Linked DNA regions of Homo sapiens. The protein of the gene in region 5 purifies or fractionates together with the protein of the main gene of each other region. This does not show direct contact. Each region holds a gene or a part of one and is shown on either strand. Other genes may lie near its edges.

Region 1 (3,500 bases), on a different chromosome or scaffold from region 5:
GTAGTTAGAAGGTGAACAGATTGTAAACAGGAGCAAGGAAATCCTGTTTTGAATAGAGTTCAGATACCCTTAGATTCATTGGGTTAACATGTACCTGCTTTTCTTTCTTTAGGAATTTGGAGTAGTTTCAAATACAAGATTGATTGCTGCTGCTACTTCTGTATGTAAGTGCAAAAAGTATATCTGCTTTAAGGATGTAATTCTAAAGAAAGCTCCAGAGTACATAGATTTTTTTTTTTTTAGTTTATGAGACATATGAGATTGGTTGGCTTTATTAAATTTCCTGAGGATAACTTTATATCTAGTGTATCTGGCAAAAAAATCAAGCTAAAAGGTTTTTTTTTAAAAAGATATAAAGATATTACTTTTAATGTTAAAATGGATAGTAATTATCAATCCAAAAACATCAACTCAGTGGCTTTTAATCTTGTAAGAGTAAAGAAAAAATTCTGTTTCCGAATTTTATTGTATTTTATTGTTTTCTAATGACTATTATGTCATTCTTATGGGTAGATATTAATATCTATGTGCAAACCCGTTCCTGTGTTGTTGGGTTGTTATGAGGACCAAATGAGTTAATATAAGCTTTTAGAACAGTGCCTTGCTTAGTATGTTACTTTGCTGAGGCTGCCATAACAAAATGCCACAGAACAGGTGGCTTAAACAACAGAAGCGTATTTTCTCACAGTTTTAGAGCATGGAAATCCAAGATCAAGGTGTCTGGCTATTCTTACATGGACCTTTCTGTGAGCACACACACTCCTGGTTTGCTGTCTTCTTCATGTGAGGACAATAGTCTTACAGAATTAGGCCCCACTCTTATGTCCTCATTTAATCTTTTTTTTTTCTTTCTTTTTTTTTTTTTTTTTTTTGAGACAGAGTCTCGCTCTGTCGCCCAGGCTGGAGTGCTCACTTCAACTTCCGCCTCCTGGGTTCAAGTGATTCTCCTGCCTCAGCCTCCTGAGTACCTGGGACTACAGGCATGTGCCACCATGCCCAGCTCATTTTTGTATTTTTTAGTAGAGACGGGGTTTCACCATGTTGGCCAGACTAGTCTCAAACTCCTGATCTCGTGATCCGCTAGCCTCGGCCTCCCAACGTGCTGGGATTATAGGTGTGAGCCACCATGTCTGGCCTGTCCTCATTTAATCTTATCCCTTTAAAGACCCTCTCTCCAAATACAGTCACATTCTGAGGTACTAGGAGTTAGGGCTTCAACATACGAATTTTGGAGGGGGACATATATTGGTCCACAATACTTGGTAAACTTTAGGGGCTATCATCATCATCATCATCTTCAATGACAACAACATCATTATCACTGGAAAACACTGTGCCAATGCAGTGGCATTGGTACCAAGGTAAAATACAAGGAATTTAAGGACAAAAAAAGAAGACAGAAACATAAAAATATTAATACAGAAGGAAATAAATAGTATAAGAGAGTTACAGAGAATGCTGTGAATGTTTTGGGTGGGAAAAGATTGTTTCATGAATCCAGAAAGGATTAAGTAGAACTTGGTGAAGGAAGTTGAACTGGGGAAATGCAAGAGATAGACAGTCTAAGAACACTGAATAGTTTAGTCAAATAGGGAAAGCTCATGAGTTAGATTAACTGAATGGTGAGTAAGGAAATAGTGGGGAAAACTCCTTACCTAATTTCAGCTAATAGAGGGCCTTCGATGCTAAATGAAGGAATCTGCACTTTGTTCTATTGACAGTAATGAAAGTTAGTTATTTGAGATGGAGTCTCGCTCAGCCGCCCAGGCTGGAGTGCAGTGGCACGATCTTGGCTCACTGCAACCTCTGCCTCCCAGGTTCAAGCGATTCTCCTGCCTCATCCTCCCTGGTAGCTGGGATTACAGGTGTGTGCCACCACGCCGGGCTAATTTTTGTATTTTTAGTAGAGATGGGGTTTCAACATTTTGGCCAGGCTGGTTTTAAACTCCTCACCTCAGGCCTCCCAAAGTGCTGAGATTACAGGCGTGAGCCACTGCACCTGGCCAGTTTTATTTATTTTTACACATGAGGGTAATGCCAGCATTGTGCATTAGGAAGGTAAATCTGACCCACCTCAGCCTCCCAAAGTGCTGAGATTACAGGCGTGAGCCACTGTGCCTGGCCAGTTTTATTTATTTTCACACATGAGGGTAATGCTAGCATTGTGCATTAGGAAGGTAAATCTGACAGAATTATGTAAGATGAATTGGAGGAGAGGGCAGGTAGAATTAGACAAATTTTGAAGTTATTTACATCCCACAACATGGATGAACCTTGAGGACATTATGGTAAGTGAAATAAGCCAGTAACAAAGACAAATATTGTGTGATTACACTTACATGGAATACTTAGTCAAATTAATAAAGATAGAAAGTAGAATGGTAGGGCTGGAGGAAGGGTGGTATAGGGAGTGATTAATGGATACAGAGTTTCAGTTTTGCAAAAATTTTGTATATCTTAACACAATTTAAAAACAAAAACCTTCTGAAATACAGTAAAACTGCAAACTGTATTGAGTGCTGTCACTTACCACAGGGTGCTATGAGAAATAAAACCTAACAAGTTTAAAGTGGAAAAAATAATTTTTAAGTTGCTGAAGTCATCCCAGTGAACACTAATGAAGGCTTAAACGAATATTGGCAGCCAGCAAGAAGAACAAACAAGCCAGATTTGAGCGATAGAGTCAGCAGTTCTTATAAAAAGAAGGGATTTAAGAAGAGTCAGAAATGTGTTTTGAGGTTTTTTTGCCTGGGGGTTGGGGAGCTGAAGCTGGTACTGAAAAAGAGAATAAGTGAGTTCTGAAAAGAATTAAATTTAATCTTTGACATTCTAAGTATAAATATGTTAGTAGAACATCCTCTTAAAAATGTGAGGCCAGCAGTAGAAATTTGGAATTTGATAACATTTAAGAGTTGCACAGGCCAGGTATGGTGGTTCCTGCTTATAATCCGAACACTTTGGGAGGCTGGAGCAGGAGGATTGCTTTAGAACAGGAGTTCAAGACCAGCCTGGACAACATAGCAAGATTCCAGCTCTGCAAAAAATTAAAGAAAAACTAACTGGGCATGGTGGCACACACCTGTAGTCCTAGCTACTCAACTAGGCTGAAGTGGGAGGGTTGCCTAAGCCCAGGAGTTCAAGGCTGCAGTAAACTGTGATTATGCCACTGCACTCCAGCCTGGGCAATGGAGTAAGACTCTGTCCCTAAAAATTAAAAAAAAAAAGAGTTCCACAATGTCTTATGCTGCATAGAAAAAGATGTGAACCAAAGAAAAAAACATCTTTGAGAGAGAACATAGTGTCATTAACAATGTGGGGGTGGAGGTAGAAGCCAGATTGCAAGGAATTAAGAAGCAAGTAGGTGCTGAGAAAGGAATAGTCTAACTATATTAAAAATATATGAAACAACTTCAGTGAAGGGAATTGGGGGAAAGGTGTTGACATAAGTAGCTTTGGAAATGATTAAGAGTGTAAGAGTAAAGGCAAAAGGAACTACACAT
Region 2 (3,500 bases), on a different chromosome or scaffold from region 5:
AAAAGAAAAAACAAATGGTAATTAGCAGAATTGTATTGAAGTGACCCCACTTCTCTACCCCAGAAAAAGACAAAGATCTGGTACTGTAGATAATGAATAAATGAGTGGAGCTGAGAACACACATTCTGCTACCTCAGCTTATGGTGGTTCTTTCTCCTAGTAGGCTTTGGTATTTTACCCATTCTGCCAGACATAATTTATATTCACCCACCTCAACTAAAAGGTTTTCAAAAACTCATTGTTTAAAATCCCTTGTACAAAGTCTTATTATTTCCAAAAGATGAATAGCTTAGAGAAATTACCACACTAAAACCTAAACTGGTTTTTAGAAAAATCAAATTATCTTTTCCTTATTTAGAACTCGGAATCTCACAGAAGCATGCTATCAAAATTGTGAAAATGCCAATCTGTTCTGCCACACTAATTCTGCCTGGATAATCAGACCAACACAGTTTCCTCTAAACAAATATCAACTGCCAGTAAAGTCTATACACACCTGGGTTTTATTGCGGCAGCCCCTGCATTCATATGTATGGGTCCTGGTGTTGGCAATCGCCATTATTCCACAAAGATTGCAAACATGAACCTGATATGGATCTGATGCCTCAAACAATCTTTCCCTTAAAAACTGGGCTGCTCCATGGGCAATCTGACAATCTCGTTCCATTTCTCCAAAACGCAGGCCACCATCACTGTTAAGAGAAAAAAATTATTACTTTGTACTTATTTTTTATTATAAACACCGCCTTGAATAATGGCAAAGGTGGAGAATAATATTTGCAAAGACGGATAACTAGGCTCTAATTTTTATACCCTAGCATTCTCTCTATTGGTGGGGAGAGGAGAAGTCTACCAACTATTTGACGTGCATTAGAAAGTCCCCAAATGGGCTAAGCAAAGTGGCTCACCCCTGTAATCCCAGCACTTTGGGAAGTGGACTGGGTGGATCTCTTGAGCTCAGGAGCCTGGGCAACATGGCGAGACCCCATCTCTATTTTTTAACAAATAAAAATAAAAACAGAAGGTCCCCAAATGGAGTGGATACATTAGATTCTTAAGTAGAGCATTTAATTTTCCTCATAAGACACAATAAAGCATAGAGTGGAGGTTCATCATGCTATCATTTAACTTTCTAGAATTCAACTCTATACTAAAAAAATGAATAATGAAAAAGACAATCTAAATAAGGCAGCTTGTCAATGGAATGACTGTCCCAGGCAATCAACCTTGAAATCATAAATACATGTTGGCTGAAGTAATGGAAAGAACAGGTAAATGATAATAGGTTTCCCCAACATAAGAAGTGAAATAAATGCATTATTCAGATGGCCAGGCAAATAGATGGTGATGGCTTCCTTAACATACTTAATATCCAAAATATACAAAATAAAACCAATGGGTTTATAATGATATTCCACCAAAACAAAAAAATCATTGGTCGACTTTGGACCACTGATCTGGATCATTAGACAACCAGCTCACTATTTTGAAAACTGGTAAATAAAAAAAGAGAATCAAGCATTTATTCCTGCCCTTACTATAAGAACTACATCACTAGGTAACCAAACAGTTGAGGAAACAAAGTTTTAGAAGTAGTCTGGCTAAAAACTGAAGAAGGACTGAGAAAAAATAGAATGGTATCAGTTGGAAATCGCCATTTAATTAAGGTCTTTAGTAATAGCTGCTAAAATCATAAAAAGAAAGGCAACCAGATACTGGAAGTATAGAATACCACCTATAAAGTATTACTGCCAAAAAACTCAAACGCTAAATCTCAAGCCTCAAGATCTATTTACAAAAAACAAAAAACAAACAAACAAACAAAAAACAGCAATGCACAGCATTTGGGATGCAAGCAGCAAAATTCAGTCTCAAGCCCTGGACAAACAGTCCAGGTTGTTCAACAAACAAATTACAAGGGGAAAAAAAAGGTTGGAAGGCAACCAATAAATTCAAAAAAGGACTTATGAGACACTATCAATCAATTGCAAAGCATGGACCTTATCTGTATACTGATTAAAACCAACAAACCTTTAAAAAACTTATGTGATAATCAGGGAAATGTAAATCTGGATATTTAATACTAAGGAGGTACTGTGGTTAGGTTTAGTGTCCTAATCTTTTAGAGCAGAGGTTCTCAGAGTGTGGTTCATGGACCGCCTGAGAGTCAAAGCTATTTTTAATAGTAATACTAACAACATATATTTGCTTCTTTCACTGTGTTTACATTTGCACTGATGGTGGAAACATGAATAAAACTGCTGACACCTTAGCAGAACTCAGGGTAGCAGAACCAAACATTACTAGCAGTCATATTCTCCATTCAAGTGAAGGGGAGAAAAGCCAGTTTTACTTAAAAATGTCCTTAATGAAGCAGTGAAAATAAATAGTTTTATTAAACCTTAACCCTTGAGTATACATCTCTTTCATATCCTGTGACTTTTAAAAAAATGAAAGTCCTCAACCAGGCACGATGACTCACACCTATAATCCCAGCACTTTGGGAGGCCAAGGTGAGAGGCTGGATTGAGCCCAGGAGTTCAAGACCAGCCAGAGCAACACAGTAAGACCCAGTCTCTATATAAAAAATAAAGTAAAATAAAATGGAACACTTCATAAGCACTTCTACTGCATAGTGAAGATGACTGTCTTGAACAAAAGCACTTGCATGATTCTGAACTAGTCCCTTTTAACATGGAGTATCTTTTTTACTCAAATAGCCAGCTGACACCAACTATGTTAACTCATCAACATGTTAACACCCATGATGTTAATTCAGACTTAGAATTAAGTTGACGATGTTGTAGATATTTGGCAGACAAAGAAATGAACAAAAAGAAATGAAAGCAAACGAAAAAAGTAAGTCTTTGAGGAAAATAATTTTAAGTATTTGTTGAAAATGATGAAAATTGTGAGCTTCAAGCAAAAATCAGAATTTTAGGAAACTTCTATGCACCACTATGGGCTTGATAGCTTCCTGATATATTTAAAGGCTTTTCTAATGACATCAGTAGTCATATTAACAAATGCAATTTTTTTATTATAATGAAGTGTGTTAACATTTGAAAATCTACGTAACTCAGCAAACCAATATTTTCCAAATGACCAATTAGGATGCTACAAAATATGCATGTGTAAAAGATACATCTGAAGTACAAGACAAACCAATGAACTTCAAACATAAATACAGAAGGTTCATTCATATGGTTTCAGTTTCTACATCAAAACCAACCTTTGAGAAACTACAACTTACCGTTTTGGTGTAGTATCAAAAAAATATCCACAGGCCAGGCGCCTTGGCTCATGCCTGTAATCCCAGCACTTTGGGAGGCCAAGGCAGACAGGTGGATCACTTAAGCTCAGGAGTTTGAGACCAGCTGGGAAACATGGCAAAACCCTGTCTCTACTAAAAAATATAAAAAATTAGCTGGGCTTGGTGGTGCATGCCTGTAGTCCCAGCTACTTGAGGCTGAGATGGGAGGATCACCTGAGCCTGGAAA
Region 3 (3,136 bases), on a different chromosome or scaffold from region 5:
CCTCCCACCTTAGCCTCCCAAAGTGCTGGGATTACAGGTGTGTGAACCATGGCATCTGGCCAATAACACTCATATTGATTGGCAGAAAACTAAAGTGTGAAGAACCTCATTTTCTTTCTTTCTTTCTTTTTTTTTATTTTTAAAGACAGAGTCTTACTCTGTCGCCCAGGCTGGAGTGCAGTGGCGTGATCTTGGCTCACTGCAGCCTCCTCCTCCCGGGTTTAAGCAATTCTTGTGCCTCAGCATCCCACAGGCGCGCACCACCACGCCTGGCTAATTTTTGTGTATTTTTAGTAGAGATGGGGTTTCACTATGTTGGTCAGGCTGGTCTTGAACTCCTGGCCTCAAGTGATCCACCTGCCACAGCCTCCCAAAGTGCTGGGATTACAGGCATGAGCCACCCTGCCCAACCAGAGAACCTCATTTTCTACATAAAACTTAATAGTTAGGGATTCCTATGGTGGCAGTACCTTAGGTTTTATGATTGCTTTGAGAGGCTGTGGGCCCCTTAAAAATGTGTTGGCTTTTATTTTTGTCCATCTTATGGGGAAAATTTGTTTCCTCTAACTTGATGATTTAACATACTTGCTATTTCTAAAATTCTTGCAATACTCTTCATGTAGGTCAGATTGAGTTGTACACTCACCTGCCTGTGATGAAACAGCTGGTCCAGCAGCTCGAGCAGTGGGAGTTCCGAGTCTGTGGAGTTTTTCTTGTTGATTCTCAGTTCATGGTGGAGTCATTCAAGGTCTGAAGCTAAATCTCTTACAGATTTTTTTTTTTTTTTTTTTTTTTTTTTTGTGTGTGTGACAGAGTCTTACTCTGTTGCCTAGGCTGGAGCGCAGTGGCGTGATCTCAGCTCACTGCAACCTCCGCCTCCCAGTTCAAGTGATTCTTGTGCCTCAGCCTCCTGAGTAGCTGGAATTACAGGTGTGTGCCATCATGCCTGGCTAATTTTTGTATTTTTAGTAGAGACGGGGTTTTACCATGTTGGCCAGGCTGGTCTCAAACTCCTGACCTCAAACATCAAGTGATCCACCTGCCTTGGCCTCCCAAAGTTCTCTTAAAGATTTTTAAACTATGAGTTCAAGCAGATGACAGTTCCTTTAATTATTGTGTGATTCTGAACATTTCACAAATGATTCCAGAGTTACTTTATCCCTTTTATTATTAAATTATAACATGTTGTTAATCAAAAATAGTAAATTATTATATCATAGAGATTTAGGAGGAACTGCTTACCAAGAAAAAAACTGAGGTTGCTGGGTGAAGTGGTTCACAGCTATAATCTTAGCACTTTGGGAGGCCAAGGCAGGAGGATTGCTTGAGCCCAAGAGTTTCGGACCTGCTTGGGCAACAGAGTGAGACCCTGTCTCTACAAAAAATATAAAAATTAGCTAGACGTTGTGGCACATGCCTGTAGTCCCAGCTACTTGGGAAGCTGAAGTGGGAGGATCGCTTGAGTACAGGAAGCAGAGGTTGCAGTGAGCCAAGATCGCCAAGATCGCACCATTGCACACCAGCCTGAGTGACAGAGTGAGACTCTGTCTCAAAAAAAAAAAAAAAGAGGAAGTAGTGGGGGAGAAAAAACTGAAGCAGATGGCTATTTTATAAAATAGTCTATTTTTAATTTTCTGAGGACCTTTTGTCCAGTTTATGAACTACCAAGATCAAATTTTTTATTAATAGCTCTTAAGGAATATTAGATGGGAAAGGAAATTAAAATGCTGTCTAAATTGAAATTTGTGATCACTGTATGTTATCTATATCTTCCCTCACCTTTGGGAACCAAGAATCAAGCATTTGATTCCCAATGATTTGGGAACATTTTTTTCTATATGGCTAGCATTACTTTTAATAAAATATAAATAATTTTGCCTTTTCCACATGTTCTGAACTGGCATTTCTTTTTTTTTTTTTTTTTTTTTGAGACCAAGTTTTGCCGTTGTTGCCCAGGCTGGAATGTGGTGGCGCAATCTTGGCTCACGGGAACCTCCGCCTCCTGGGTTCAAGTGATTCTCCTGCCTCAGACTCTTGAGTAGCTGGGATTACAGGCACATGCCACCATGCCTGGCTAATTTTGTATTTTTAGTAGAGACAAGGTTTCACCACGTTGGCCAGGCTGGTCTTGAACTCCTGACCTGAGGTGATCTGCCCGCCTCAGCCTCCCCAAGTGTTGGGATTACAGGCATGAGCCACCACGTCCAGCTTGCATTTCTTTTATTTAGGCCAGTTCTGTTCCAGTGAGGAATAGAAGACTCTTTATGCAGACCAGGTAACTGTTGGCAACAGTCAGTTCATCTTCCCTTTTCTGTTTCCTCCTTCAGTTTATTTCTGGCATCTTGGCAGCCCTGAGTGCCATGATCTCTCTAGAAATTCCGCAAGTCAACATCATGACAAAAATGGATCTGCTGAGTAAAAAAGCAAAAAAGGAAATTGAGAAGTGAGTTCACTGTTCTTCCATTATTATCAGATCTCAGTTGCAGAGATGAACCTTCTGTTTTATTTAGATGGGAAGTTTGGCTGGTTTATAAACCTAGTCTCCTGAATTCATCAGTCTTTCTGTCTTTTAAAGATTTTTAGATCCAGACATGTATTCTTTATTAGAAGATTCTACAAGTGACTTAAGAAGCAAAAAATTCAAGAAACTGACTAAAGCTATATGTGGACTGGTAAGCTTTTAAAGTTTGGATTTTTTGGCCAGGTGCAGTGGCTAATGCCTGTAACCCTAGCACTTTGGCAGGCCAAGGCAGCAAGATTGAGTCCAGGAGTTCAAGACCAGCCTGGGCAACATAGTGACACCCTATCTCTAAAAAAATTTTTTAAATTAGGCCAGGTGCAGTGGCTCACACCTGTAATCCTAGCACTTTGGGAGGCCAAGGCAGGCTGATCATTTGAGATCAGGAGTTCAAGACCAAGCCTGGCCAACATGGTGAAACCCTGTCTCTACTAAAAATACAAAAAAAAATTAGCTGGGCATGGTGGTGTGCGCCTGTAATCCTAGTACTCGGGAGCCTGAGACAGGAGAATCACTTGAACTCGGGAGGCGGAGGTTGCAGTGAGTTGAGATCATGCCACTGCAGTCCAGCCTGGGCGACAGAGTAAGACTTTGTCTCAAAAACAAAAAAAAATTAGG
Region 4 (3,500 bases), about 22 Mb from region 5:
GTTGCAGTGAGTCAAGATTGCGTCACTGCACTCCAGTCTGGGTGACAGAGCGAGACTCCATCTCAAAAAAAGAAAAAAAGTACTTTTGAATAAATAAGTAAATGAGCAACTCATAAGAAGAGATATAAACGATCTGACCTGAGATAATCAGCTTACTCATTGTTTAAAAAGTGTAGAAGGATGGGCCTGGTAGTTTATGCCTGTAGTCCTAGCTACTTGGGAGGTTTGGGCGGGAGGATTGCTTGAGCCCAGGAGTTTGAGACTGTAGCATACCATGATCGTGCATGTAAATAGTCATGGTACTCCAGCCTGGGCAACGTAGTGAGTTACTGATCAAAAAAAAAGTGAAGTTTTCTAAATTAAAGAACTATGGTAATGGACATTATTTTCTGTTTGCCCTTGATACAAGAAAAGATAAAGAGAGATAGACTGCCGGGCGCGGTGGCTCATGCCTGTAATCCCAGCACTTTGGGAGGCTGAGGTGGGCGAATCACCTGAGGTCAGGAGTTCGAGACCAGCCTGACCAACATGGAGAAACCCTGTCTCTACTAAAAATACAAAATTAGCCAGGCGTGATGGCCCATGCTTGTAATCCCAGCTACTCAGGAAGCTGAGGCAGGAGAATCGCTTGAACCTGGGAGGCGGAGGTTGCAGTGAACCGAGATTGTGCCATTGCACTCCAGCCTGGGCAACAAGAGCAAAACTCTGTCTCAAAAAAAAGTGAAATGGACTAATACCTCCTTAGGTCCCTTTGTAGCTTCACTCATTGACTCCATCCCTTTATTGTTTGTTTGTTTGTTTGTTTATTTATTTATTTAAGATGGAGTCTCACTCTGTCACCCAGGCTGGAGTGCAGTAGTGCGATCTCAGCTCACTGCAACCTACACCTCCTGGGTTCAAGTGATTCTCCTGCCTCAGCCTCCCAAGTAGCTGGGACTACAGGCATGCACCACCACACCCGGCTAATTCTTGTATTTTTAGTAGAGATGGGGTTTCACTATGTTGGCCAAGCTGGTCTTGAACTCCTTACCTGAAGTGATCCACCTGTCTTGGCCTCCGAAAGTGCTAGGATTACAGGTGCGAGCCTTGGCGTCAGGCTCCTTTATTGTTATTATAATTTGGCATGGGGGACGGGGTAGGTCTCACTGTGTTGCCCAGGCTGGCGTACAGTGATTTGATCACAGCTCACTACAGCCCCCGAAGTCCTGGGCTCAAGCCATCCTCCCGCCTTGGCCTCCCAAAGTGCTAGGATTACAGGTGTGAGCCAGTGCACCAGCCTGTCCTTTTATTATGATCCTACTTAAATGCATTCTGAAGAAAAAATAAGTAAATATTGATACTGAACCCTTCAAAAATGATGTTTTTGGACTGCATTGTTTCTTGTGTTTTATTTACTGACAAAAATTATTGGTTGATTAGAAAGGTAACTTCCAGGATTTCTAATTTTTTTTTTTTTTTTCCCCAGACAGAGTCTCACTCTGTCGCCCAGGCTGGAGTGCAGTGGTGCGATTTCGGCTCACTGCAACCTCCGCCCCCCAGGTTCAAGTGATTCTCCTGCCTCAGCCTCCTGAGTAGCTGGGATTACAGGCGCCTGTCACCACACCTGGCTAATTTTTGTGTTTTTAGTAGAGATGCGGTTTCACCGTCTTCTGCAGGCTGGTCTTGAACCCCTGACCTTGTGATCCACCCGCCTCAGCCTCCCAAAGTGCTGGGATTACAGGCATGAGCCATCACACCTGGCCTGATTTCTAAGTTTTATAGGAACTACAGGCCGTGCCTGGTGGTTCATGCCTGTAATTTCAGCACTGTGGGAGGCTGAGATGGGTGGATCAACTTTAGGCCAGGAGTTTGAGACCAGCCTGGCCAACCTGATGAAACCCCCATCTCTACAAAACATACAAAAAAATTAGCCAGGCATGGTGGTGCATTCCTGTAATGCCATGTACGTGGGAGGCTGAGGCATGAAAATTTCTTGAACCTGGGAGGTGGAGATTGCAGTGAGTCGAGATCACACCACTGCATTCCAGTCTGGACAGAGTGAGACTCTGCCTCCAATAAAAAAATAAATAAATAGGCTGGGCGCAGTGATTCACACCTGTAATCCCACCTGTAATCCTAGTCCTTCGGGAGGCCAAGATGGGCGGATCATGAAGTCAAGAGATCGAGACCATCCTGACCAACATGGTGAAACCCCATCTCTACTAAAAATACAAAAAATTAGCCGGGCATGGTGATGGGCGCCTGTAGTTCCAGCTACTTGGGTGGCTGAGGCAGGAGAATGGTGTGAACCCAGGAGGTGGAGCTTGCAGTGAGCTGAGATTGCGCCACTGCACTCCAGCCTGGGTGACAGAGCAAGACTCTGTCTCAAAATAAATAAATAAATACATAAATAAATAAATAAGGGAATAACAGCATCTGATAAATTATAGCTGACAAATATTGCAAAAATTAACCTCTTAAAACATACTGTGATTCCCATCATTTGTATTACTTTGAGGAATACCCTTTTTCTTTCCTATCCCCAGTTTCTCGATCTTTGGGCATGAATGCATCAGTGACAATTGAAGGAACATCTGCTGTGTACAAACTCCCAATTGCACCATTAATTATGGGGTCACATCCAGTTGACAATAAATGGTAAGTTAAATATAATTTTAGAGTAGCAAAGTCAATTTTTCTCAAAGCGCAGTATGTAACAAGTTTTAACCTGGCTGTTACCCCACTTGAATTTCTAGAGGTTGGCCTTTTGTTTTATCCATTCATTGGTTTCTCTTTTGTTTGATATCTGAGTGTTCCTCTCCAAAGTCGGCTCGTAGAACACATTCTCTGCACTGAAAGGGAAAGAAGAGAACTGTGCTAATTCCTCTGGCTTAATGAGTGCCCCCTTTTATCTTACGTTCATTAGTTACATTGGAGTAATAACTGGAGAACATGCCTCAGGATAAATGTTTGATTAAATTCTACAGTGTTAACCAATAGCATGTCTGGGAATTGGGGGTAGGAAGTTTCACAGAGTGAGCTTTTGAGAGTTTGTACTTATGTGTCTGTGTGATACATACATGTTTAAGAATAGGTGTTTGTGGCCAGGCATGGTGGCTCACGCCTGTAATCCCAGCACTTTGGGAGGCTGAGGCAAGTGGAACACCTGAGGTCAGGAGTTCAAGACCAGCCTGGCCAACATGGTGAAACCCCATCTCTACTAACAATACAAAAATTAGCCGGGCGTGGTGGCGGGCACCTGTAGTCCCAGCTACTCACGAAGCTGAGATAGGAGAATCCCTTGAACCCGGGAGGCAGAGGTTGCAGTGAGCCAAGATCACGCCATTGCACTCTAGCCTGGGCATTAAGAGGGAAAATCTGTCTCAAAAAAAAAAAAGGTGTTTGGGTTTTTCATTTTTATATCAAGTCAGAATCCAACCCTTCCACCCTCTTTTTTTTGAAGGACCCCTTCCTTCTCCTCAATCACCAGTGCCAACAGTGTTGATCTTCCTGCCTGTTTC
Region 5 (3,361 bases):
ACTCTGTATCTAGCTCAAGGTTTGTAAACACACCAATCAGCACCCTGTGTTTAGCTCAAGGTTTGTGAATGCACCAATCGACACTCTGTATCTAGCTGCTCTGGTGGGGCCTTGGAGAACCTGTGTGTCCAAACTGTATCTAACTAATCTGATGGGGACGGGGAGAACCTTTGTATCTAGCTCAGGGATTGTAAATGCACCAATCAGCGCCGTGACAAAACAGGCCACTCGGCTCTACCAATCAGCAGGATGTGGGTGGGGCCAGATAAGAGAATAAAAGCAGGCTGCCGGAGCCAGCAGTGGCAACCCGCTTGGGTCCCCTTCCATGCTGTGGAAGCTTTGTTCTTTCACTCTTTGCAATAAATCTTGCCACTGCTCACTCTTTGGGTCCACGCTGCTTTTATGAGCTGTAACACTCACCGCGAAGATCTGCAGCTTCACTCCTGAGCCCAGCGAGACCACGAGCCCACCGGGAGGAACGAACAACTCCAGACATGCTGCCTTAAGAGCTGTAACGCACACCGCGAAGGTCTGCAGCTTCCCTCCTGAGCCAGCGAGACCACGAACCCACCAGAAGGAAGAAACTCCGAACACATCTGAACATCAGAAGGGACAGACTTCAGACGCGCCACCTTAAGAGCTGTAACACTCACTGTGAGGGTCCGTGGCCTCATTCTTGAAGTCAGTGAGACCAAGAACCCACCAATTCCGGACACACAAGTACATAAGGGTATAAGTACAAGATGTTCACTGTCATTCTAGTACAGTACAACCACCCATGAATAGCCAGGGTAATTTCGCTGTCTAATTGTATATGTGTTAACATGGAAGGACATCTGAGGTGCCTTGTTAAGTAGAAAAAGCAAGAATGAGAACTATGGATGGTCACATTTCTGTCAGAACAAATAAGAAAAGTTTGTGTGTTTTGTATGCTGTTGTACATTTCAAAGCCATCTGAAACAGTGGACACCACATGTTAGCAGAGGTTATCTCTGGAACAAGGGGTTAATGAGATTTCCCTTTTCTAAGCCTTGGTTGTCTCATTTTTGAATTTTTTCCCTCAAGTACCTATTACTGTCATTTTTTAAAAAAGTGATCTTAGAAAAATGAAAGCCACTGGAGTTAGTACCGTGCGAGGAGAGCCTGTGGGCAGAGGAATGGACTGGTAAGGGCTGGTCTGAGGGCAAGGCAGCTGGGACAGAGTGGAGTGTGAGGCACAGTGCATGGAAGTTGTGAGGAAGAAGAAATGGGAAACTGAGTCAGATGCCACCAAAAGGTCAAAAGAAATGACTGTCAGATTTGGGAGGAAGTCTGTGTCAGTGGTTCTAGCAGAGTTATTGGCCAGTTTGCATCTGTACTAAAGCATCCATGCTAAAAAGAAGAACAAAGAAAATCAGGGCATGATTCTCAGACACCTGCCTAAAACCCTGTGATGTTTGCCTTTGAGTCTGGTGACACGGATACAACTGTCTGTCAGACGTGGGAAGGATGCTCAGAGGATCACCCCTGGCGGTAGTATTTTTGTCCACTCTTTAAAAAAACCATAGTAGGGGGCTGGGTGCGGTGGCTTACGCCTGTAATCCCAGCACTTTGGGAGGTTGAGGTGGGCGGATCACCTGAGGTCGGGAGTTCGAGACCAGCCTGGCCAACGTGGAGAAACACCATCTCTACTAAAAATACAAAATTAGCCGGGCGTGGTAGCGCATGCCTGTAATCCCAGCTACTCAGGAGGCCGAGGCAGGAGAATCACTTGAACCCGGGAGGCGGAGGTTGCAGTGAGCCAAGATCGCACCATTGCACTCCAGCCTGGGCAACGAGTAAAACTCTGTCTCAAAAAAAAAAAAGAAAAAAAGAAACCACAGTACCACAGTAGTTGGGACCAAAGTGCTCTGACCTTGCCTTGTTTGTACGATGTTCATCCTCCTTGACCTAGTGGCTTTTTTCATTCCTTCTATAGTTGGCCGATGACTAACCTTGAACACAAAGGTAGGCCCACTTAGAGCTTTCTGCTTTTATTCACTCGGTATTTGGTCCTGTCCCTTTTCTTTTGGCTTGAATATTTCACAGTCATCCTGGCTTAGCAGATGCCCACTTCTGAATAGCATGTTCTCTTCACTCCAGGAGTTCCATGCTATTTACCTCCACCAACTAGGGCAGTTGGGCTTGCAGAGGGGCCTCCCTGTGGGCTGCATGGCCCCTTTTGGCTCAGCTGCCCTCCAGGCGGCTTGTCTTACAGCTCCTTTTTTATTATCTGAAGACTGTCTCCTTTCCTGAAAGTTCACCAAAGAACACGCAACCCTTGCTATTTGGGGGTTTTCAGAGATGAGCATCTTAAACATGACCCACTTTCAACTTTCAGAACTAAATTTTCTTTTGGGCCAGGTTATGTTTGCTTCAAGAATGGGATTATCTGTCATCCACATTTCTATTTTAAGTACTTTTTTGTTTGTTTTACCATGTCCTTTGAGACTCATGTGAGTCGGTTTTTTTAAAAACTATATTTTAATTTTAAAACTTCCTTGGGACTTAAATTCGTAACGGTATGTTAACACGCATGCCATCCGAGTAGAAGGATTTCAGAAGTGCAGATGGTTTCTGTCCACATTTGTGGATCAGAGCTGAGACTTCAAAGAATTAAAATAAAAGACGTTCCCTATTTGCTTCCTTCCAAAGGATTTTTAGTTCTCATGAATACCAGTTCATCCTCTCTAGAATCTGCGATAAGGTATACTGTTAATGGTGTCTCTCAGTTGAGGGCATCATTTCCTGGCCTCTCATTTCCTGGAAGAAGTGATTGATTCTCCATACCCTCCCTCTGAGTTTAGAGCTGTTGGTAAATACTGAGCTGGCCATGGTGGCCATCTGATTTGCAAGGTGTGAGACGTAACTGATGGATCGCCAGGAAAGATGGATATTCTGCCTGCGTAAGCAGAGAAATGATGAATAGTAAACATGAATTAGCACCATCTGGGTTGAAATTTCCCACTACGGATGAACATTTATTTGAAAAAATTAATGATCATTGACAGTTTTTCCCTCTTATGCCTCAATGGCTTACTTTCAGAACAGCTTACTGAATTGCCTTTTAGTTTTGGTCTCAACCACTTGTTTTCAAAAGCTCATCCACTTACTAACTTTTAAAAAACGTATAGGAAGCTGAGTGTGGTGGCTCATGCCTGTAATCCCAGCACTTTGGGAGGCCGAGGCAGGTGGATCACCTGAGGTCAGGAGTTCAAGACCAGCCTGGCCAACATGGTGAAACCCTGTCTCTACTAAAAATACAAAAATTATCCGGGCGTGTTGGCATGCGCCTGTAATCCCAGCTACTCAGGAGGCTGAGGCAGGAGAATTGCTTGAACCG
Region 6 (3,500 bases), on a different chromosome or scaffold from region 5:
AACACAGAAATAAAAGAGATACAGGCTGTCGGCCAGATAGATGGGTGGGGTAGGACATGGGGCAGGTGGAGCAGAGGAAAGAGGAGGGTAGGGTATTGAAAAATGGGTGGTATGTTAAAAGGTGAGGGCAGGGTGAAGGAAAGAGGGTGGGACTTCAAAGATGGAGATGAAATGTAAGGAAAGTTAAGTGATTTGCTCAAAACCCCAGAGATGGTGTTCACCGGCAGAGACTGATGGGCTCCTGAATCTGATGAGTCTGTTGGAGCTACAAAGCTGATGCAGGCAAAGTTCTTGCCCAAAGGGGAAAAAAGGCAAGGGACACGGGCAGACAATGGAACATGCCTCCTTCTTGAAGATGGAATCGAAGCCAGCAATCTTGTTGCCCTTGGTATCGATAAGGGAGCCCTGTGGCTCACACGTGATGACATCTCGGGTCTGCTTGGGCAGTGGCAGCAGCTGGCGAACCTTTTCCAGACTGTCTGACTGGCGCTCCCCCAACTCCTTCTGCAGGCACAGGAAGATGGGACAAGAGTTCAGAGATACAGAAAACAGGGATGGGAAGTCTCAGGGGACAGCACAGAACCTGGCACAGAGAAGACCCCCACTCAGTAAATGCTCACGGCATGAGTAACAAAGAAAAGGCAGACGTGAGAAGGAAAGGTAGAGGGCTCCAGCCAGAAGCAAGTTCCTGAGGCTGGACAGCAGATTCCAGTAACCGCAAACCTTGCCCCCGCTTCCTCTGCTTACCTGCAACTTCTTCGCCAGGTTCATGTATGCACGCTTGTTTTCCTCCATGCTACCTTGCGAGATGCTAGACATGTCTGCAGCCAATGTCCCATTGATGAGCACGCTCAGCATGTCCAACACAGTAGTGAAGAGCTCACTGAGACAGGAAGCCAGAGAGAAAACCAAAGAAGAAAGAGGTGAAGATAGAAAAAGGCCTCAGCAGAGGACACAAGCAGGGAGAGGTGCTTAATATGTCATCCCAAGGGCACCAAAACTGTATGGGGAGCCCAGGGCCACGGAGTCCACAGTAACAGCCACACCAATCTCAGTGGGTGCACCTGGCATGGGAGTAGGGGGAGCTTCTTGGGTATGAAACTGCAGGGAGCGGGTGGGGATGCTTTACTTGTTGGACTGCATGTCGACAGTGCCGCTGATGATGATCTCCAGGAGGAGCATGGCCCACTCCGTGGTCTGCTGGGTGCTGCGCTGCACCGTGTCAAACATGCCCCCCACCTGCCAGGGCCACAACAAGTCAGTCAGATGGCTCAGGGACAAAGGCCAGAGTTTCAGGAAAGCTTAGTTCCAATCTGAGTTGGGACGCCTGAGTTCATGCTTGAGTTTTTTTTTTTTTTTTTTTTTGAGACGGAGTCTCGCTCTGTCACCCAGGCTAGAGTGCAGTGGCGCGACCTCGGCTTACTGCAAACTCCGCCTCCCGGGTTCACGCCATTCTCCTGCCTCAGCCTCCCGAGTAGCTGGGACTACAGGCGCCTGCCACCACGCCCAGCTAATTTTTTTTGTATTTTTAGTAGAGACGGGGTTTCATCGTGTTAACCAGGATGGTCTCGATCTCCTGACCTCGTGATCCGCCCACCTCGGCCTCCCAAAGTGCTGGGATTACAGGCGTGAGCCACCGCGCCCGGCCATGCTTGAGTTGAGCCTATGATTTGCTACATGATCTCAAGACAATGACGGAATTCTTGACGTCTCTAGGCCTCTGTTTCCATACTTAGAAAGTGATGGGAATTGGACAGAATGATTTCCAGGATTCCATTCAACATTCCACAGTGGGTTTCCAGTGCTTCTAGGGCCCAGTCAGAATCTAGGATACTGAGGCAGAGGCCCTGCAAGGATCCAGGGTACATAACCTATTGGACCATGACCACAGTGATCCAGCCCCCTTAACCACTTTCAGTCCCTGCATACTTTCAGAGAACAAGGTTAATACTTCAAGACTCAGGCTGGGCACGGTGGCTCATGCCTGTAATCCCAGCACTTTGGGAGGCCGAGACAGACGGATCATTTGAGGTAAGGAGTTCAAGACCAGCCTGACCAGCATGGTCAAACCCCATCTCTATGAAAAATACAAAAATTAGCCAGGTGTGGTGGTACACACCTGTAATCCCAGCTACTCAGGAGGTTGAGGCACGAGAATCACTTGAACCCAGGAGGTGGAGGTTGCAGTGAGCTGAGATGGCGCCACTGCACTCCAGCTTGGGTGACAGAGTGAGACTCTGACTCCAAAAAAAAAAAAAACCCTTCAAGACTCAGAATAACCTGGGGCCTCTATCCTTACCCCCATTCTCCCCAACCTGAGGCTTTTGCACTCCGCATTTCCAGCCCTACCCTCTTCCTTCTTCTCCCCAGCTGGCCTTCTCACCAGGTTGAGCCGCAGTTTGAGTGCCTCATGCATAAGCTGCTTTGGTTTGCAATCATCTAAGTACTGGTCATCTCGCCAATTATTCACAATCTAGAATAGAAACAAATAAAATATGCAGCTCAGGGATCTTCGTGTTTCCATCCCACAGCAGCCAATATGTTTATCAGAAAGTACTGAAGTTTCCAAGTACAGAGTAACCCCTTAGGTGCATCCTTCCCTGACCTCCTGCCCACCTCCATGGCCCAGAGATCTGTACCTGGTGCACCTGGCTGTAGAGGGAGGTAAGGAGTCCCTCGCGTTGTTCATCCTGCCCTTTCAGACATGTTAGCACCAGCGATAAGAAGGGCTGCTGGCTCAATAGGGACATGCTAGAGACAAGAGAAAGAAGAGAAGAGAAGAGAAGAGAAGAGAAGAGAAGAGAAGAGAAGAGAAGAGAAGAGAAGAGGAGAGAAGAGGAGAGGAGAAAAGGGAGACTGTGGGTTGGGAGTCAACTTCCAACCTCATTCTCCAGACTACTCTCTTAAGATCTAGCCTCTTGCTCAGCCATGCCCACTCTTATCCTCTGATTTTCCACTTTCCTATGATGCTTCTCCTTGGCCCATTTTATTCTTCCCCGGGCCTGCCTCTTCTCCTTTCTACCCCTCAATCTTGGTCCACTCCCTAAGCCCCTTTACCTCTTCTGCTTTTGTCGATCACGTTCTTTGCGTGAAGAGGAACCCAGGTGCTGACCCTTCTCCAATTCTTCCCCAGCAGCCTTTAACACATGTCCCTGGACTGAGGTGGGCAGTTTAGCAATGAGGGGGGCCACCAGCCATACACCAGAGCGCTCTAGAGAGCTGGAGAACAGACAGAGGACACAGGGTCACAGGGGAGCCAGGCAAGGCTGGAACAATCTATCCTCTCCTTTCCCTGATGGACATGCTGGCATCTCCACGCATCTGATATCACTCACGCTACCAGCAGATAAACTCCTAAGGGGATGGGTCCTAACATGTTTCTATCCGACCTGAGCACAGGCTTGGTCTTGCTGCTGCTGGGCATGTTGCTTGCAGTACTTCCAGAAGATGACCCTGTCTCTGCTGACTGTTGGAAAACCTCGATTGTGGCCTTGGCGATG
Region 7 (3,500 bases), on a different chromosome or scaffold from region 5:
CACAGCACCAGTCCCAGACAGGACAGGGGACATTTGCTGTCTGTGTTTTTTTTTTTTTTTGAGATGGAGTCTCGCTCTGTCGCCCAGGCTGGAATGCAGTGGCATGATCTCAGTTCACTGCAAGCTCCGCTTCCTGGGTTCATGCCATTCTCCTGCCTCAGTCTCCCGAGTAGCTGGGACTACAGGTGCCTGCCACCACACCTGGCTAATTTTTTGTATTTTTAGTAGAGACGGGATTTCACCATGTTAGCCAGGATGGTCTCCATCTCCTGACCTCATGATCCACTTGCCTCAGCCTCCCAAAGTGCTGGGATTGCAGGAGTGAGCCACCACACCCGGCCGACATTTGTTGTCTTTAATCATGAGGACTGGGAGGGAATGGGAAAGGGCTGGGGACCCCAAGCCTAGGATCCTGTGCTGACTCCAACCCTGGAGTGACTGACTCCATGCCCAGCCTCCTGCTGTCCCCTCCCCTCTCTGGGCTGTCTGCTCCAAATCAGTCCTGGCCCCACTTCACCTTCCCAGCCAGAGACGGGGGCCTCCTCTGTCCTCCTAGTCTTATGGGTTCAAGTGTGCCCCCTTCAAAAAGACAGGTTGAGGTCCTAAGCCCCAGTACCTCAGAAGGTGACCTAATTTGGAAAGATCTTTACACAGGTAATCGAGTTAAATTGCGGGCCCTAATCCACTATGGCTGGTGTCTGTGAAAAGGAGAAACGTGGACACGGACACACACACAGAGGGAAGACACAAGGACACAGAGAGACACAGGGAGAGGCCATGTGAGGACGGGTGATGCAGCCTCAGCAGGCACCAGGAAAGGCAGAAGGGCCCTTCCCCTGTAAGATTTCAGAGACAGCCTGGCCCTACCACCTGGATTTTGGACTTCCAGCCTCCAGAACCCTGAGACATCAATTTCCATTCTTCTGGCCAGTTTCTCATACTTTGCTACGGCAGCCTGGGAAACTAACACACACAGACTCTCGTTTCTCCTCCGCCTGATCTGCAGTCGCGTCGCAGCATCCGTCCCACATGGGTTGTGGCCCGGGGATGGCCTCTCCTCAAGGGCAGCTGTGGTTGCCACCATTATTCCGGTCACGTGGTCGTGAGAGGCTGACCTTTGCTGCAGGGGACGTGTGTGGAGACCGAGCACCCCTCTGAGGGTCTTGAGGGCCCTGTCCCCCTGAAGTGTGGTCTCTGATCCTACCTCTCCCACAGGCGGGGATGGGGTCTGAGTCCTCTCTTACCCCCAGGCTTGCCCACCACAGCGGGGCACATGTGAGGCCTCAGGAAATGTAGGCTAAGTGAATGAACGTCTACAGGCCCAACCGTGTCCATCAAGACTGGAACCAACCCAGGCCCTCGGCCCGGCATCGGCCCAGCATCCGAGGCCTCCGAGTCCTGCACCCCGTCCATCTCTCCTGCTCCATGCCCGCACCTATAGGTCCTCTCAACTGACAAAGCCCAGACATCCAGGTCTCTGCATGTGCTGGAACACACCCATTCCGGCCCGGATGGAATCCAGCTAAACTACGACACCCATCCTGGTGTGCCCTCCTATAGGAAGCCTTCCCTACATGCCACCTAATTTTACGGCCTGCCCTTAGTCACATCATAGATCACCCGATACTGCAGCTGTCAAGCTTCTCTCCGCACCCTGTGCAGCCCTCCAAGAGAGACACCAAGGCGTCTGACCCTAGGTCACACAAGGCCTAGGAACCATCTGCTGAGTACTCAGTGCACTGGTGGCCTGGCAGGGCCATGCAGCGGGGCTCTCCGCTTCCTGCCTGAGTTCTCGCACTGATTTCCTTCCAGTCCCACTCGGCCCGGCCAGTGAGCACACTGAGCCCCTGAGCCTTCTTCCTGCTCTCAGGGCACTCGGGCGCTGCTCCCAACCCACCACACACTTCCCAGCCCTCCTCTTCCTAGCCATCAAAACAGCTTTTGTTTTTGAGACGGAGTCTCGCTCTGTCTCCCAGGCTGGAGGGCAGAGGCACATCTCCGCTCACTGCAAGCTCCGCCTCCCGGATTCACGCCATTCTCCTGCCTCAGCCTCCCTCGTAGCTGGGACCACAGGTGCCCGCCACCACGCCCGGCTAATTTTTTTAATTTTTAAGTAGAGACGGGGTTTCACGGTGTTATCCGGGATGGTCTCGAACTCCTGACCTTATGATCCACCCGCCTCGGCCTCCCAAAGTGCTGGGATTACAGGCGTGAGCCACTGTGCCCGGCATCAAGACAGCTTTGCACGCAGAAACTTCAACTGTGTGCAAAGAGTTGGGGTGAACCAACTCTGGACCCAGCTGTTCTGCTACAGGTGAAATTAAGCCAATATTTTCCTGGGCCTTTCTGGGACTCGAGCCAAAACCACCCTGGCTGGGGATGGGGGGATGGGGGAATGGGGAGCTAGTGCTTCATGCATATGGGGTGTCCTCTTTGGGGTGATAAATTTTTTTTTTTGAGATGGAGTTTCGCTCTTGTTGCCCAGGCTGGAGTGCAATGGCACGATCTCAGCTCACCACTACCTTCGACTTCTGGGTTCAAGTGATTCTCCTGCCTCAGCCTCCCGAGTAGCTGGGATTACAGGCATGCGGCACCACGCCCAGCTAATTTTGTATTTTTAGTAGAGACAGGGTTTCTCCATGTTGGTCGGGCTGGTCTCGAACTCCCGACCTCAGGTGATCCGCCTCCTCACCCTCCCAAAGTGCTGGAATTACAGGCATGACCCTGTAAAACAGTTGGAAGTGACTGGGTGCAATGGCTTATGCCTGTAATCCCAGCACTTTGGGAGGCCGAGGTGGGCGGATCACTTGAGGTCAGGAGTTCAAGACCAACCTGGCCAAAGTGAAACCCTATCTCTACTAAAAATACAAAAACCAGCCAGACATGGTGGTGGGTACGTGTAATCCCAGCTACTCGGGAGGCTGAGGCAGGAGAATCACTTGAACCTCGGGGGCAGAGGTTGTAGTGAGCTGAGATCATGCCACTGCACTCCAGCCTGGGAGAGAGAGAGAGACTCCATCTCAAACAAAACAAAACAAAACAAAACCCTTATGAGGAAAAGTGTGATAAACTAACCAGTTTGAGATGCTAAAACTTGCGTTTCTCTTATTGAACACTAAGTACAAGTCATGTGCTACAAGCTCAAAGGGCGACATGTAATAAACATTTTGTCAAAGAAATGTGGAAAACTTGAACAGAAGAAGCACTATGGCTGGCTGCAAAATATGGCTAAAATATCAAGTTTATGATAAATTCCAAATAAACCCCTTGATATGGCAGACACAAAATAAAAATAAAAGCCCCCTAGGTGACACAAGTGGGCTCTGACTTGGTGTTCCCAAGTCCTCTAACTTACTCCCATTTGTTCTACCCAGTATCATTCCCCGGGGTCTCTGCTGCCCGCTTTCATCGGCTAACAGGTGCCTGGAGCCCCAGGAGGTCAAAATGAGTGAATGTTAACAGCATCCGGCCATGACCAAGGGCTCCCTACACACGGCCTG

The links.
Region 1: the proteins of MED9 (region 5) and CCNC purify together in Homo sapiens (affinity purification with mass spectrometry; 5 studies listed by BioGRID and IntAct, with this or other methods). This does not show direct contact.
Region 2: the proteins of MED9 (region 5) and POLR2B purify together in Homo sapiens (affinity purification with mass spectrometry; 4 studies listed by BioGRID and IntAct, with this or other methods). This does not show direct contact.
Region 3: the proteins of MED9 (region 5) and GPN3 purify together in Homo sapiens (co-immunoprecipitation; 2 studies listed by BioGRID and IntAct, with this or other methods). This does not show direct contact.
Region 4: the proteins of MED9 (region 5) and MED1 purify together in Homo sapiens (affinity purification with mass spectrometry; 9 studies listed by BioGRID and IntAct, with this or other methods). This does not show direct contact.
Region 6: the proteins of MED9 (region 5) and MED12 purify together in Homo sapiens (affinity purification with mass spectrometry; 6 studies listed by BioGRID and IntAct, with this or other methods). This does not show direct contact.
Region 7: the proteins of MED9 (region 5) and MED25 purify together in Homo sapiens (co-immunoprecipitation; 3 studies listed by BioGRID and IntAct, with this or other methods). This does not show direct contact.

The regions. Positions count from the first base shown.
Region 1 is NC_000006.12:99,555,161-99,558,660, reverse strand, and holds part of CCNC (cyclin-C), read left to right. Parts: intron 1-112; coding exon 113-164; intron 165-3,500. UniProt on the Homo sapiens protein: Component of the Mediator complex, a coactivator involved in regulated gene transcription of nearly all RNA polymerase II-dependent genes.
Region 2 is NC_000004.12:57,027,396-57,030,895, reverse strand, and holds part of POLR2B (DNA-directed RNA polymerase II subunit RPB2), read right to left. Parts: intron 693-3,500; coding exon 497-692; intron 124-496; exon of another isoform or gene 1-123. UniProt on the Homo sapiens protein: Catalytic core component of RNA polymerase II (Pol II), a DNA-dependent RNA polymerase which synthesizes mRNA precursors and many functional non-coding RNAs using the four ribonucleoside triphosphates as substrates.
Region 3 is NC_000012.12:110,455,122-110,458,257, reverse strand, and holds part of GPN3 (GPN-loop GTPase 3), read left to right. Parts: intron 1-623; coding exon 624-748; intron 749-2,327; coding exon 2,328-2,443; intron 2,444-2,575; coding exon 2,576-2,672; intron 2,673-3,136. UniProt on the Homo sapiens protein: Small GTPase required for proper localization of RNA polymerase II (RNAPII). May act at an RNAP assembly step prior to nuclear import.
Region 4 is NC_000017.11:39,423,764-39,427,263, reverse strand, and holds part of MED1 (mediator of RNA polymerase II transcription subunit 1), read left to right. Parts: intron 1-2,525; coding exon 2,526-2,637; intron 2,638-3,442; coding exon 3,443-3,500. UniProt on the Homo sapiens protein: Component of the Mediator complex, a coactivator involved in the regulated transcription of nearly all RNA polymerase II-dependent genes.
Region 5 is NC_000017.11:17,487,000-17,490,360, forward strand, and holds part of MED9 (mediator of RNA polymerase II transcription subunit 9), read left to right. Parts: intron 1-3,361.
Region 6 is NC_000023.11:71,132,096-71,135,595, reverse strand, and holds part of MED12 (mediator of RNA polymerase II transcription subunit 12), read right to left. Parts: coding exon 3,390-3,500; intron 3,220-3,389; coding exon 3,058-3,219; intron 2,752-3,057; coding exon 2,640-2,751; intron 2,474-2,639; coding exon 2,384-2,473; intron 1,240-2,383; coding exon 1,130-1,239; intron 884-1,129; coding exon 748-883; intron 505-747; coding exon 343-504; intron 1-342. UniProt on the Homo sapiens protein: Component of the Mediator complex, a coactivator involved in the regulated transcription of nearly all RNA polymerase II-dependent genes.
Region 7 is NC_000019.10:49,824,789-49,828,288, reverse strand, and holds part of MED25 (mediator of RNA polymerase II transcription subunit 25), read right to left. Parts: intron 1-3,500. UniProt on the Homo sapiens protein: Component of the Mediator complex, a coactivator involved in the regulated transcription of nearly all RNA polymerase II-dependent genes.